Linked DNA regions of Homo sapiens. The protein of the gene in region 2 interacts with the protein of the main gene of each other region in a pairwise test. Each region holds a gene or a part of one and is shown on either strand. Other genes may lie near its edges. The genes, in order: YY1AP1 and ZFAT.

Region 1 (3,823 bases), on a different chromosome or scaffold from region 2:
GGTTGCAGGTGGCAAGAAGGTGGATTTGTGTCAAGAGCTGAACATGCTGGGGAGAGAAAGAAAATAATGCAGTGATATGTTATGACACTGCCATTTCAGGAGCCCAGAGATATTTTTTTTTCCCCCTGGAGACAGGGTCTTGCTCTGTCACACAGCTTGGAGTGCAGTGGTGCAACCATGACTCAATGCCCTCTCAACCACCTGTGCTCAAGCAATCTTCCCACCTCAGCCTCCCAAGTAGCTGTGACCACAATGCCTGGCTAATTTATTTTATTATTATTATTATTATTATTTTTAGACAGAGTCTCGCACTGACTTTTGGGCTGGAGTGCAATGGCGTGATCTCGGCTCACTGTAACCTCTGCCTCCCAGGTTCAAGTGATTCTCTTGCCTCAACCTCCCGAGTAGCTGGGATTACAGGTGCCCGCCGCCACACCCAGCTAATTTTTTGTTTTCGTAGAGACGGGGTTTCACCATGTTGGCCAGGCTTGCCTCAAACTCCTGACCTCATGATTCACCCGCCTTGGCCTCCCAAAGTGCTGGGATTACAGGTGTGAGCCACTGTGCCCAGCCTTATTTTTATTTTTTGTAGAGACAGAGTCTCACTATGTTGTCCAGGCTGCTTTTGAACTCCCCTGCTCAAGCAATCCTCCCACCTCAGCCTCCCAAAGTGCTGGGATTACATGTGTGAGCCACTGCACCCAGCCACCAGAGAGTCATTAACTAAGATGTTTGCAACTTTATGACACAAATTTTGCTTTCTGCAAAGAGTGTGAGAACAACGTAGGATCTTGGCATAAATTTCTCAGACATGTTCCCTTGAACAAAATGACAGAACCAGAGGAAGTTTAACCTCTAAACAGAGGAGGAACTGAGATTAGAAAAGGAAAAGGCCGGGCGCAGTGACTCACGCGTGTAATCCCAGCACTCTGGGAGGCCGAGGCGGGTGGATCACGAGGTTAGGAGATCGAGACCATCCTGGCTAACACAGTGAACCCTGTCTCTACTAAAAATACAAAAAATTAGCTGGGTGTGGTGGCGAGTCCCTGTAGTCACAGCTACTCGGGAGGCTGAGGCAGGAGAATGGCGTGAACCCGGGAGGCAGAGCTTGCAGTGAGCTGAGATTGAGCCACTGCACTCCAGCCTGGGTGACAGAGCGAGACTACGTCTCAAAAAAAAAAGAAAAAAGAAAAGGGAAAAGGGAAAAAAAACTACTTGTCACAGTGAAGGTTAAATTTCAGAATAGATTACTGAGGACTCTTTGAAATCTGTAATTCCGAATACCATTAGGGTCCTTATGTGCTGTCTTCCCTGAGCCACAGGACATGAACATGATGACTTCTCAAGCTCCTAACTGATGTGAAGATACTACGGTTTTAATACGTAGTAAGGTAACTATCTCTGACATTTACAAAGCTGCTAATTTTAGATTATACCAAAGCCTCAGAGTTAGGCCTTGGTATAATTCAATATTAATATGACCAAGGAAAGTGTTACCTGCTGCATCTGCTGCTGGAGTCTCTTCCTTTGTGCTGGGTCCAGAATCAGGGTCTGATGAACTTCCTTACACTGGGGTTTAACCTTCTCTACCTCCTTCTGCTGTTTGGCTGAAGGTTTCTTCATCTTCAGCTGTTCAAATAGTTCCTTCGCTATCTGATGTTGTTCATTTAGTAGGTTGGCCAGTAGTTCCTCAAACCTATCCCAAACGGGGATGACTGAATTTGAGTGTTTTCCTAGGTCCACAACACATCCAATTCTTTGCAATGATGAGCAAAGAGCCTGAACAATTTTCATTCCCTACTAATCCCCCCTTTTCACTTTAGCCAACAGTCAAACTCCCAGCCTTACACAAATCTTTTCCCAAAGTAGTTAGCATGCATCAAATGATTCTGTATTACACCCCATCCCATTCCTCTACAATTCCTCTTCCAAATAATATACAAATGAAGAAAAAATTAAACAAAAAACTAGGGACAGAGAAATATATGGGTAAGAAAGCAGCCAAGGAGCTGGTGGGAACTCATCATTCTCATTTCTTCTCTCATTACTTGTTACTCCCTGGGATGTTACTCCCATCCCAGGTCCAGCTTGTCCCATTATCCTATCTACTCAGGCTGCACTGCCCTGCTTTCTTAACAAGTCAAAGACTTTCTAGCATGAAGCAGGAAAAGGATATACCAAAATAACTGAAGTACATGGTAGTTCAAATGAACAGAACGGAGAAGTTAGTTAAAATATTATCCATGAAGGCTATCTTCTTTTAGCCCTTTAAATTCCTCTTCCAAGGTTCCTAACCCTAACTTCCCATCCATACCCTCCTGAAAGATTGTTTGCAGGGCTGAAGCAAAAATTCCAATACCTAGCATGTCAGTTCTATGTATGATTACTATACCTTTTCTATGTTTACATAGAAAGAAATAAAGGGAGAATAATATACCTAAATGATTAAGCATATGCTGATACCCTATGCAACAGGATAAGATCTGCTGAAGTAGCTATAACAAGCAGGTTATCATATTTCAAGGAACCCCCTATATTACAGCAATAGTTAAATGGTAACGTTTTTCAATAGTTTTTGCAGATAAAGATTACGTTTGAATAAGTTTTCTTTTATAGTATTTACTGTAGGTTTGGGTAGCACAGAGTAAAAACCTGAAGACCGTGGGACTGTCTATACAATCTTTACTGAGAACTGAAAATTTGAACATCCGCGCTACCACCACTGAAGGAACAGAAGAGAAGAAGCATAAAAAAGTAGAAAATGGAAACATAGCCTGCACTTAGTTTTAACAAGGATTATTTAGGTAATTGATAAGGGAAGCCCCAGAGTTTTTGTTTTGACTGTCTTTTTCTCCTCTCTCTTCCTTATTGTGTTTTAAGATGTGCTTACTCTCTATGGACTTACAGAGGGATTTTTATTTAGTCAAAGATTAAAACAAAAACAGGTTTGTATTTGCAATCGAAAGAGAAGCAGAAGCTGCCCAAGTACAGTCATGCGCCACAGAATGTTTCAGTCAATAACGAACCACATAGTCAGAGGTGGCTCCATAAGATTACTGTACCTTTTCTATGTTTACATACATATGTACTTACCATTGTGTTACAACTGCCTACAGTATTCAGTACAGTACAGTAACACACTGTACAGGTTTTGTAGCCTGGGAGCAATAGGTATGCAGTAGGCTAAACCATTTAGGTTTATGTAAGTACATTCTACGATGTTTACACAATGATGAATCGTTTAATGATAGATTTCACAGAGGGTATGACCATGAGATGATATATGACTATATTCCATTGAATACCAGAAGGTAACTGGATTCTAACAGGAATTTTAAATTAGTTCTATATTTTCCAAATTTTAAGAAGTTATAAAGAGTTGATCAGCAAAACCAAAATATTTATTAATCAGATCCTATTATACGTTCCCAGGATGAATGGTTCCATTCTGCTATACCAGAATTTTGTTCTATGAACTATAAATTAAAATAATGGGTCAAATACTGACTTAGCAATCTTGAGATTTTTGATGTAGTTGTATTGTGATATTTGTTGTAATGGAGAATGACTAGTAGTTCTAGTTTTTAAGACATTGGTTGGCCTATCTTATCTTTTTTCACTAAATTGGAAAATCCCTAAAGGTCTAGCTTTCAGATGGAACCCAAGCTCTCTGCTTAGTAGTGCTGTTAAGTTCAAACACAGGACTAATTACAGGGACTATTCTCTTTGCTTTGTTCCACTTATGGCACAAACTGCATCCTGACCTCTCGCCATCGACCTAATGATTATATGCTGCTACAACAGAATAAAGTGCAGATGCAAA
Region 2 (3,823 bases):
TTACAATATTTAAATTTGGAAGTTACTAGTATGCCTGCATGCTAAGCCCAAGGCTAATTTAAGGAAAGTAATTTGGATCTTTCTCAAATGACAAAGATATCCAGAAGGTGATACATATTATTGGCACAAAGAATGCCAAAGAAAGAAACCCTGGATTCATAACATTAATTAAATAAATAAATCAAGACTTTGCATATTTTCTCCTCTACTGCAAGATCTAAATGGTCTTAGGAGAATCTTTTGCTCTGACTTTTTGTATTATTAGGCAAATACCTGGTAAAGCCCTTAGTGCCCAGGTTCCCCTCGAGGATAGTGAGTCTGATGAGGATGCTACACAGCCTCCATCTGACCCTTAAGTCCAAGTCATTGACTGTGACAGTGAACTGATGCCAGAGCTTCGATGTCCATGCGAGTTCTATGAAGTCACTTTATTCCAAATGCTGCCTCCTCAGAGAGGTACTCTCACCACTGCTTTTACAAAGGAATCCGGCCAGGCGCAGTGGCTCACGCCTGTAATCCCAGCACTTTGGGAGGCTGAGGAGGGCGGATCACAAGGTCAGGAGATCGAGACCATCCTGGCTAACACGGTGAAACCCCGTCTCTACTAAAAATACAAAAAATTAGCTGGGTGTGGTGGTGGGCGCCTGCAGTCCCAGCTACTCGGGAGGCTGAGGCGGGAGAATGGCGTGAACCCAGGGGGTGGAGCTTGCAGTGAGCCCAGATCGCGCCACTGCACTCCAGCCCGGGAGACAGAGCCACAGAGCCAGACCCCATCTCAAAAAAAAAAAAAAAAGAAAGAAATCCAGCAGAACTTTAAGAGGTCCTACTCCTTAATCCAGTTATTCCACTTATGGGAATTTATCCAAAAGAAAGAATACAAAATTCAGATGATGGTGCTCATGGCTCATTTTCCACAATAGTTAAGAATGGGAAGCTGTTCGAAGGTACCAACATAGGGAACTAGTTTGTTTGCACGTTTATCTTTCTTCACTTATTCATTCCCTTAAAAAAGTGTTCCAGGTACTCAGGATACAAAAGGGAATGAAAACAAGCACAGCCCTGCCCTCTGGAGCTCACCTTCCAGAAAGTGCCATAGGCCAGCCTACGTACTAAATATAAAAGTAAGCAGACAAGGACCATCAGGCTCCCTGTGAGAAGGATAACGGCCGGACACTCTGAGAGTCCAGTCAGGGTAGATTGACTTGGTCTAGGGACAGGGAAGGCCTCCCTGAGGACAAGACATTTGAGCAGAAAGCTGAAGGACAGATAAGCATTAACTAAGCAAGAGGGAGGAAAGGCATCCAGGAAAAGGAAGCGGTGCCTGCAATAAGAGACTAAGGAAGTGAAAAGAGGCCCAGATGGCTGGAACAGATGGCAGCAGCAAGAGTACTGGGGAACCACAGCAGGTGGACAAGCCTCAGAGGTGGCAGGGCTAGTCTTGGAAGCCCCCTGCACCCCTAAGAGCAAGACAAAGCCTAAAAGGGTAACAATCAGATGAGCATTTTTAAAAGATCTTGTTGGCTCCAATGTCAAGAGTTGAGTTGATAACACTATATCCTCATGAAGTTATGCCTTGTTGCTATAAAGCAAAATGTTTGTGATTCATTTGAGTACAAAGGCATATAAATGTAATGTGATTAAGTTTTAAAAAGTGACAGCCGGGCACAGTGGCTCACGCCTGTAATTCCAGCATTTTGGGAGGCCAAGGCTGGTGGATAACTTGAGGTCAAGAGTTCAAGAACAGCCTGGCCAACATAGTGAAACCCCAACTCTACTGAAAATCCAAAAAAAAAGCTGGCCGTGGTGGTGCACACCTGTATTCCCAGCTACTCAGGAGGCTGAGGCAAGAGAATAGGCAAGAGAATAGCTTGAACCTGGGAGGCAGAGGCTGCAGTGAGCCAAGATTGTGCCACTGCACTCCAGCCTGGGTAACAGAGTGAGACTCTGTCTCAGAAAAAAAAAAAAAAAAAAAGTTTTAAAAAGTGAGATACAAAATCGCTATAAAATATAAACTCAATTTTATAAAATACACATGCTGAAAAAAAGGCTGGGAGAAAACACATTTAAAATAATAAGTGGTTATCTTTGGGCAATAAGATCATAAATGACTTTTTTTCCCTCAGTTTTCTGGACTTCCAAAATTTTTTATATAATAACTCTGTATCATTTGTTATGAGAGAAGAATTATATAACCTAAAAGTTTTTATCTGTATTTTACAAAGTAAAATCCTTACGCAAAAACATCTCTTTTATAGTTATCTTATAATTTGCACAATAAAATATTAATAGAATGCATGACAACAAAAATATAGCCTAGATCTGTTGATTAAATATTCAGTGTATTTACCTGTAACTAGATTAACATTTAGCTGAACCTCCCCGCCAACAGACCTTGAAATATTGTGAAGATAATTAATTAAGGTCTACAAATCAACCTGACTTGAAACACAGAATGATTTTAGAGACTTAATTCTATTATGAATTCACCAAAGGAATGAGTATTTTTACAACTTCATCAATAAATTCAATTGTTCACATTTACAAGAATAGAGGATTGAAGCTACAAATTAATGAAGCATACCACATGATATAATAATATAATTTAATGAGAGCACTACATGTGCCAGGCACTTTGCATATTTTATCTCTTATTCTCACTACTAAACTAAAATTCTATTAGACAGTCTTAAAATTGTGCAACAAATGTTAGATGCAAAGTAACGTGTGTCAAGTTACAATGGAGTGTAAGCTTCATCAGGGCAGGGGCTGCAACTGTCTGATTCTTTGTCATATCACCAGTGCCCAGCACATAAGAGGTGTTCAATTTGTTGAGCTGAACTCATACAGAGTAGTCTAGAGCCAACCTAGGTCTATTTCATTCTGAAGCTTATGTTCTACTCAAAAACACCCCATTTCTCTTCTTCCAGAAACAGAGGAAAACCACTGGCAACTGGCATTTTCTTTGTCTTTCCTTCTAGCTGGGAGAAATGTTTTCAGACCTCTGGGGATCAGAGTTTGTTAACTGACTTCAGCAGGTACAGGCTAAAGACAGACAATTTGGGGAGACTGTAGAGAAACACACTGGTTTGCTATGGGTGGTCAACTGATCCAGTGTATCTGGAGGACAGTTTTTAATGTCAGTTAAGCACTAGGCACTCATATCCTTTGCTGTAGCAATTTCAACTCTAGCAATGGATTCCACAGGAGGTCTTGAAGTATGGAAAGATGTATACACCAAAACATTAATCACTGCATTGTCCGTAATAGTAAAAACTGGCTATATAAACTAAAATACATCCACATAATAGCAAACACAGCTTTTTAAACTGTGTACTAAAAATGAAAGACTTTCAAGGTGTAGTAAGCTTTTAAAAAAAAGTTGAAAACAGTACTTTTGGTATTTAGTATTTGCAAAAAACAACAAAATTAAACCAATATATGTTAGTATATTTCAAAAAACTTGTAGAAGCACATGAACTAAACTACCTCCAGAAACAGTAACTCTAGGTTACTTTAATGCCACATCATATGGGACATGTGAGCCTTCTGCAACACACTTGTGTTACTTTTGAAAGTGGGAAGGAAATAAATATTTTTCTAAACGGTAGTAAGTGAAGCTATAAATGTCTAAAACTTTACTTAAGCTATGTTTCTATTTCTTTTTATTAAGGTAAAAAATAGTTTTTCTTTAAATAAAATGCTCTGGCTTCATTAAGCCAGTTGGTGCTCAGTTCTAAAAACATGCTACTCTGCAACACACTGGAGGCTCAGCGAGCACACCGAGGGCTGCCATGGAGGGGTAATTCTACTGCTGAATCAAGGA

Evidence for each region.
Region 1: the proteins of ZFAT (region 2) and YY1AP1 interact in a two-hybrid assay, tested with the Homo sapiens proteins (one large-scale study listed by BioGRID and IntAct).

The regions. Positions count from the first base shown.
Region 1 is NC_000001.11:155,675,051-155,678,873, forward strand, and holds part of YY1AP1 (YY1-associated protein 1), read right to left. Parts: intron 1,697-3,823; coding exon 1,498-1,696; intron 47-1,497; coding exon 1-46. UniProt on the Homo sapiens protein: Associates with the INO80 chromatin remodeling complex, which is responsible for transcriptional regulation, DNA repair, and replication. Enhances transcription activation by YY1. Plays a role in cell cycle regulation.
Region 2 is NC_000008.11:134,604,777-134,608,599, forward strand, and holds part of ZFAT (zinc finger protein ZFAT), read right to left. Parts: intron 1-3,823. UniProt on the Homo sapiens protein: May be involved in transcriptional regulation. Overexpression causes down-regulation of a number of genes involved in the immune response. Some genes are also up-regulated.